Homo sapiens: one gene and its partner. Each later gene encodes a partner of the first gene's protein in a complex. Each region holds a gene or a part of one and is shown on either strand. Other genes may lie near its edges. The genes, in order: SLC7A9 and SLC3A1. A codon is read from its position in the direction of its gene.

The links.
Region 2: the proteins of SLC7A9 (region 1) and SLC3A1 are in contact, whole or in part, in a cryo-EM structure (PDB 6LID), measured with the Homo sapiens proteins. Residues at the interface, in NP_001119807.1 of Homo sapiens: Cys137, Phe140, Tyr141, Val142, Gly143, Cys144, Pro147, Ile149, Val150, Cys153, Leu154, Ala156, Ala157, Leu160, Phe161, Thr164, Leu168, Thr279, Thr281, Asp295, Arg296, Tyr299, Tyr343, Val346, Arg347, Lys467, Thr470, Met471, His472, Gln474; in NP_000332.2 of Homo sapiens: Pro64, Tyr65, Ala66, Gly67, Met68, Pro69, Lys70, Leu73, Phe74, Phe76, Ser77, Tyr82, Pro85, Arg86, Phe90, Thr93, Val97, Leu100, Ile101, Ala103, Thr104, Ile107, Ile108, Ser111, Cys114, His201, Asp202, Thr373 (codon at 2,170), Glu374 (codon at 2,167), Pro375 (codon at 2,164).

What each region holds. Positions count from the first base shown.
Region 1 is NC_000019.10:32,867,934-32,871,845, forward strand, and holds the start of SLC7A9 (B(0,+)-type amino acid transporter 1), read right to left. Parts: upstream 1,835-3,912; 5' UTR 1,753-1,834; exon of another isoform or gene 1,744-1,752; intron 713-1,743; 5' UTR 602-712; coding exon 515-601; intron 1-514. UniProt on the Homo sapiens protein: Associates with SLC3A1 to form a functional transporter complex that mediates the electrogenic exchange between cationic amino acids and neutral amino acids, with a stoichiometry of 1:1.
Region 2 is NC_000002.12:44,299,366-44,303,277, reverse strand, and holds part of SLC3A1 (amino acid transporter heavy chain SLC3A1), read right to left. Parts: intron 3,308-3,912; coding exon 3,188-3,307; intron 2,276-3,187; coding exon 2,151-2,275; intron 1-2,150. UniProt on the Homo sapiens protein: Acts as a chaperone that facilitates biogenesis and trafficking of functional transporter heteromers to the plasma membrane.

The DNA of each region.
Region 1 (3,912 bases):
AAAAAAAAAAAAAAAAAAAAGAATATGCAGCCGAGTGCAGTGGCACACGCCTGTAATCCCAGCACTTTGGGAGGATCACCTGAGGCCAAGAGTCTGAGACCAGCCTGGCCAACATGGTGAAACCCTGTCTCTACTAAAAATACAAAAATTAGCCGGGTATGGTGGCGGGTGCTTGTAATCCCAGCTACTCGGGAGGCTGAGTCAGAAGAATCCCTTGAACCGGGGAGGTGAAGGTTGCATTGAGCCGAGATGGCAGCACTGCACTCTAGCCTGGGTGACAGAGCAACACTCCATCTCAAAAAAAAAAAAAAAAAAAAGAAGATGCAGAATTCCCTGGCGAGAGGGAAAGAGAAGTAAGTCCAGAGATTATCCCTTTAAAGATGTACTTCACAAATCAAAGAGTACATCTTCTGCCGTGTCACTAGGGATCGGCCCGGATTTCACTGCCTGCGCCCCTCGTTCAGACGCCCTTGCCTAACCTGCAAAGGGCCTGCCCCACCAGAGACCGCCTTACCTCCTTTTGGAGACTGGTGGTCTTAGGCTCTTGGCTCTGGATCGACTTCTCATCCTCTCTCCGCTTTCTCAGGCCAGTATCCCCCATGTTTCCTCCTGCTGGTTCCAGGAGACTGCAAGGAGGGCGCACAGCTAAATCTTGGTTCAGCAGCAGCAGACAAGACGCAAGTGCAAGCTCGGCCTGGACTAGGGGAGCTGGCTGCAAAAGCACAGTGTTGGTTATTGCTGCAGGTGGGGGCCGCTGCCAGTCCCTCAGGGCTCATGCGCTGGGCCCCAGAGTCAAAGTCAGTCATTAACATTGTCCAGGCAGGGGAACACAGCTCCCCGCTGCTCTCCAAAGCTCAGCTGCTTGCTTAGCTCTCTCCCAGACAGGCCCCGGGAGCCTCCTGGCCCACGTGCCTGTGCCTTGAAAGTCATTCTACCTCTATGGTCAACTTCATTTTTTTTCAAAAGTAAAAAGAAATATTTAACAACATCCCGGGCTGGGCACAGTGGCTCAGGTCTGTAATCCCAGCACTTTCGGAGGCCGAGGTGGGTGGATCACTTGAGCCCAGGAGTTTGAGACCAGCCTGGCTAACATGGCGAACCCCGTCTCTACTAAAAATGCAAAAAAAAAAAAAAAAAAATTAGCTGGGTGTGGTGGTGGGTGCCTGTTAATCCCAGCTACTCGGGAGGCTGAGGCAAGAGAAGCACTTGAACCCTGGAGGCAGAGGCTGCAGTGAGCCAAGATCATGCCACTGCACTCCAGCCTGGGCCACAGAGCGAGATTCTGTTTCAAAAAATATATATATAAAAAATTAAAAAATGAAAATATTGTGGAATGTATTTATCAGAATCAAGTCCAGGTAAGGAGTGTCTGTCTTATAATTCCTTCCCAAGATTAAAGGCACTCCCATACATCACAGATCCACAATACAGGTACTTTTTCTTTGTACTTTTTAAATTTTTACAATATTTTTTATAAAGACGGGAGTGTTGCTATTTGCCCCGGCTGGCCTCAAGCAGTCCTTCCACCTCGGCCTCCCAAAGGGCTGGGATTTCAGGGGTGAGCCACCACGCCTGGCCAGGTACTTTTTCATTGAGTGATGAAAGGAAAGAAAACATTGCCGAGGAAACCCAGTTCCAGACTGAACTAGGAGAAAACCATGCACTCCTGTACCCTCTCTCTAAATAAATTATCTGTCCAGGCCCCGGCCAGGAGAGCCATGAGCCTTTCTATCACCTACTGACCTTACTTACCTTCCTCCGTGACCCTGCAGAGCCGGAGGAGCTGCGGCCCAGCTGACCGCCCGTGCCTGCACGGTCCAACCCTAGAAATGGCCATGTCTTGTGCCCAGGAGCAAAGGAAGTCCAGAAGGTACAGAGGTCAATAAGGGTAATTATTAAACACCTTTTTTTTTTTTTTTGCAATGAAGCTTAGATACGCCACACAAAAAAGGGGAGGGTCAGGAACACCAATTTCTCTCCAAAACCGTTTTTGTTTTGTTCATTTGTGTCTAGGTCAGATTATTTTTTTAAAACCAGATGGTCCCAAATCGTCTACACTTTTTACCTAAAGATAAAATAAATTATGCCTTCTTTTATCTTTGGGAATCAGAGGAGATAAACTTTGGAACCAATTCGCTAATTGCCTTAATAGGCTATATTTAAAACCCAAGTCAGGCAGCTCAAACAGGAACCGCTGTGTGTGCGTAACTCAGCTGTTGGTCAGTTTCCTCCCCGCCCAGGAATTTCCCCCAAGCCAAGGGCCTGCCTCTGGCTGAGCAGGTGAGAGCGGCTGAGCCCGTCCCACTCCTCTTTACCAGTGATGGGGCTTCACCACTTGGAATCACAAGCAGGCCTGAGGCAATGCAGGGCCTCGTGTCCTCCCTGCAGCTGCGGCCAAATGCCCATCAGGTTTGGCTGTGGTGCTGTTCACGTAGCCATGTCCTGGCTCATCACAAGGGACACAAAACCTTCCCCTTCGGGGAAACGGAGGGGGACAGGCAACACAAGGCCAGGAAGCTCCGGTCCGCATCCAGGGCTGCCAGGGTCTGGATCTCTCTGGGAGGGAGCAGAGGTTCTCCCGCACTGCGATTGGACCTAGGCTCAGGCGGCAGCCTCAGGGGTCAGCACGAAGCCCTTTCAGATAGGGAAGGAAGCACCTTATGAGACCTTATGAGACAGCCTGGCACAGCATAAGCACTGCATCTGAAGCATCGTAGCTGTTACCTTCAGCCAAAACTCTGGTAGCTTTGCCTTGGGCCAAACTTAACTGCATCCCAGATATCAGATGGAAGCAAAGGTCAGGGATGGAAGGAGCTGGGCCAGTCTCTGGGGGTCAGTTTGGGAGCAGTTTGGGGCAAGCAGACCTGAGAGAGGCACAGGTTTCTCTGAAAGCCGTCTGCAGAGCACAGGGACCCTTGTTGTCCCAGAGGCACGGTCCTGATTTAGAAGTTCGTCACCTCCCATCTTGGGAGGGCCCACCTGTTTACCTGCCTGCCATGCCCAGAGCCCTGAGCAGAGAGGCTAGTGGCAGGTCCTGCCACCCTAGACAGAACCTGCCCACCGGCTTGCTGGGGTCACTCCTCCTAATGTTGCAGCACTCATCATAGTACCTGGCACATCCATGTTTGCAAAACACCACAGAATACCCCCTGGGTCAAAAGTGCTCCTGGCAGGCTGACAGGAGACCACGTGAGGACATCAGGGTGGGGCAGTGGTCCCCCGCTGGGGCCAGACAGCCCTGCAACCTCACCCACTACCCACATGGGCTCAGGCAGCACTGCCAGGATCAGGGTCTGAACCTGCGACGCAGGGCGAGCAACAGGCGCCTCCTCACGGAACACACTGAACTTGCATGTTCCATGAATGTCCGGGACCAGCCCTCTGGTCTTCCTGGGCCTCTTCCAAGTGCCGAGTCTGGAACATCGGGATGTGAGGGTCCTTTGTTAAGTCAGAAACCTCCACTTCAGTTCATTTTGGGTCCACGGTGAGCATTTCTTAAGCCTGTTTCTTAAAGTTGTGTTTTTCACCGCAGTCCCACCCTCTCCCTCCCTTGAATACACAGAAAGTATTCAAGTAATTCTCATAAGCTCTTCCTCATGGAAAATAATACGGATTTCATTTAAAAAGCAAAATTTTCCTCAGTTCTTGAAGACCATTGGTTCATTGTGTATCCAGTGCTTCTGCCATGTGACTGAAGTTTCACCTCCCTGCTGTCAATTTTTTTTTTTTTAGATGGAGCCTCACTCTGTCGCCCAGGCTGGAGTGCAGTGGCACGATCTCAGCTCACTGCAACCTCTGCCTCCTGGGTTCAAGTGATTCTCCTGTCTCAGCCTCCTGAGTAGCTGGGATTACAGGCATCCACCACCATGCCTGGCTAATTTTTGTATTTTTAGTAGAGATGGGGTTTCACCA
Region 2 (3,912 bases), on another chromosome or scaffold:
AGTGAGAATGTCTTTAAAAAAAAAAAAAAAAATTGGATCTCAGTCTATATTGGTTGTTTTTTTGTTATTGTTTCTTGAGACAGAGTTTTACTCTTATTGCCCAGGCTGGAGTGCAATGGCATGATCTTGGCTTACTGCAACCTCCACCTCCCAGGTGCAAGTGATTCTCCTGCCTCAGCCTCCCGAGTAGCTAGGATTACAGGCACCCGCCACCACGCCCAGCTAATTTTTTTGTGTTTTTAGTAGACACAGGGTTTCACCATGTTGGCCAGGCTGGTCTCAAACTCCTGACCTCTGATGATGTGCCTGCCTTGGCCTCCCAAACTATTGGGATTACAGGCATGAGCCACCGCACCAAGCCTGTTCTTTTCTTTCTAAACCTAGAATCCTAGGAGAAATAATCTCCTAGAATCAAAATTCAGTAACATCCTGACACTAAAACTCGTTGACATCCATGAAGACTTTCTTTAGCAATTCTCATCACTCCATTTAGAATCTAAAGTTTATGTCTGCAAATTAGGTGGGGTATTTTCTTCAAAAGAACTTCCCCCTTGTATTGGAGTCCCTATAACATCTTGCCTTATTATTGGTGTGCACTCTCAATTGCTGAAAGCAAAACCCTGGGGGAAGACACATTCACCTGAAATGACTCCGATCAATGCTGGCTTTAGCTATTTGAGGCAGCATATTTATGGATAAGTGCATGGTCTCTGGAGCCCAACTGCTTCAGTTCAAATCCCATAGCTGCCACTCCTACCTGTGGACATTACTTACATGCTCAGAGCCTCAGTTTCCTTGTCTATAAAATGGAGACAGAGTAATCGGAGTACCTACTTTAAGGAGATGAAATTTCTTTAATTCCTTCCTATTGATTCTGTTGAGTGATCTATGTAAACTTAATGATGGGTAATTTTATTGAGTGTTTACTATGATCCAGGCACTACTTTATATACATTATCTAATTTAATCTCACAACAGCCTTATAGAGGTTATTGCTATCACTTTTTTATTGATGAGACAACTGAGACTTATGTTAATTAACTGGCCCTAGGTCACACAGCTACAGAGCAGGACTCCTTCAGACCTACCTGATTCCAAAGCTGTGTTCCTGATACTTTAGCTGAAACATATGGATTTATATACTGTACTAGGAAACTATAGATCCAATAACAATGATAAAAATAATACTGCAGAGAAGGAGCTGGTATTTTTATTTTTTTCTTGAGATGGAGTATTGCTCTGTTGCCCAGACTGGAGCACAGTGGCATGATCTCAGCTCACTGCAACCTCCACCTCCCCGGTTCAAGCAATTCTCCTGCCTCAGCCTCCCGAGTAGCTGGTATTACAGGCATGTGCCACCTTGCCCATTTTTGTAGTTCTAGTAGAGGAGGGGTTTCGCCATGTTGCCCAGGCTGGTCTCGAACACCGTCAGGTGATCCACCAGCCTCGACCTCACACAGTGCTGGGATTACAGGCATGAGCTACCGCACCCAGGTGGAGCTGGTTTTGTTTTTTTGGTTCTTTTTTTTTTTTTTTTTTGTGATGGAGTCTCGCTCTGTCGCCCAGGCTGGAGTGCAGTGGTGCAATCTTGACTCGCTGCAACCTCTGCTTCCCGGGTTCAAGTGATTCTCCTGCCTCAGCCTCCCAAGTAGCTGGGATTACAGGCACCCACCACCACACCCAGCTAATTTTTGTATTTTTAGTAGAGATGGGGTTTCACCATGTTGGCCAGGCTGGTCTCAAACTCCTGACCTCGTGATCCGCCTGCCTTGGCCTCCTACAGTGCTGGGTTTACAGGCGTGAGCCACTGTGCCCGGCCTGGAACTGGTTTTTGAAAAAGAAAAAATAATAGCTCATGGCTAACATTTAGCTAATATAATCTCTTTTTCATTAACCTAATTTTCACAAAACTCCTGTGAAGTACGTAGTGTGATCTGCATCATTTTACAAAAGAGGAAACTGAAAGTCAGCAAAATAAGCAAACAGGAAAGGAATATGGCAGGCCCTGGTACAACCAAACTGTAATCAATTAGAGTTATGCAGGCTTGTTACATTATTACTTGAACCTCCAAATACACTTGGTTGTGAGGGATACACTGCAGATCACACACTAAGCCTGGGAAGAAATGAGAGCATATGCCGTGGTCAACCTGTATCTGCCGGGCTCCGTGCTGTATTGGTCCATGGTCTGCCGGAAGCTGCGGACAATGTCGTGCATTCCCACCTGCGTGGTGGTGAAGTCATGGTACAGCTCCGAGTATTGTGTGACCGTGTCCTTTGAAAACCAGGACGACATGGTTACCCTCATTTCATACATTGCATGCCCACAGCTCGCTCTATATGAATGTAGACAACCTCTTCAAAGGGCTCAAGCCAAGCGAGACGCACACTCAAACATGGTTTTGTGGATGGAGAAGAATGCTTCATTTGATGCTCAAGTTGTTAACTTTATAAATCTACTAAGCAATATTTCTCTAATAAACTGTCACCCATTTTAGCAAATAAATTTTACCAAGCAAAACACTGATTACAAAGTTCTCAACACGTAATTGTCAAAATGTTTCAGACCCTTTTAAAAACAAAAAAAAAGATCTTAGTGGTTATAGAGCTCATTATTACATGTATACTTTATCTGCTCACAAAACTATTAACATCATGCACTTAAATTTGTTTCTTTACCATCACTATCCTTTCTCCTAACTGTTATACTTTCTCGGGGTTTCAGTAAATTTTTCCTAGTTTCTGTATCTTTGTAGGATTTCTATGTCAGTGTCTCATTTCTATGTCTTTCTAGGATGACAATAATCTCCTAGAATCAAAACAAAAAATTACATCTCATCCAAGCCAAGGCCTCCTCACTTGAGCCTATGTCAGATGATAAAATTGCAGGAGTAAATGTCCTCTATTTTGTGGCCCTTGGTAGAGCCCACACTGTCCATGTCTTCAGAACCCTTGTCACTGAAGGACTCCTCAAGGGATCCCTCGCTCTGGAGGGAACCAGTGGAAAAAAACATCGAGTGCATATGCATTTCAAACTCTTGCACATTTCCTAAAGAAATAAATCAGGGTACTTGCTAGACACAGGACAAAACTCATCTTTGTAACTGGTATCTCAGGCTGAGAAAGAAAACACTCTGATGACATTTTCAGAAAAGGCAAAAGAAAAACGTTTAAAATAAAACTTTACCGGGATTTGGGTCTTATTTACTTGGATCTCATCTCTCAGGTGCTTTGCTTCTAGGAGGAATTTAACAGCATCCAAACTAAAACCATCAACACCCTTTGTGAGCCAGAACCGTAAAATTTCCTAAAGATGAAGAAGCAAAATGCTTGGTTACATTAACTACGTTATTATCACAACGTTTAATCAAAGTTTTGACTGTTAACAACTTGGCATCATAAAACAGATATCTACATACAGAACAAGCACAGTATTCACAGTCTATTTTTATCTATTTAGCATAACTGTCTTACTAAAATGCACTCTAACTGCATTTAGCGACTCCCACACCTCCTTCATATGTGAATTCAGAATTACAATTAGTTACATTTGTAATGGATGTTATAAGGATGTTTTCAAAGTTTAGAGAGTCTACTAAAAATGAAAGAATGAAACCATAAGAAAAGATAGGACTCAGAATAAACTAGGAAAGTTTCTCATCTCCCTCATGCCCAACTCCTTAACTGTCACTGCAAACTCAAAGAAAATAACACATTGTTCAATAGTTAAATATTTCACTCCTTACTAGGAAGGCAGATGAGAGGTGAAGTGCTTAGATATTAAAGGATCTCCTGCTAGGAGTAATATGGAAGGAACACACAGAAAAAAAATAGAATCAACCATCAACCAAGTAAATAACTAAGAATAGTGACGATCCTGTGGTAAAACTCAGATACTAGTGTTGTCTTGAA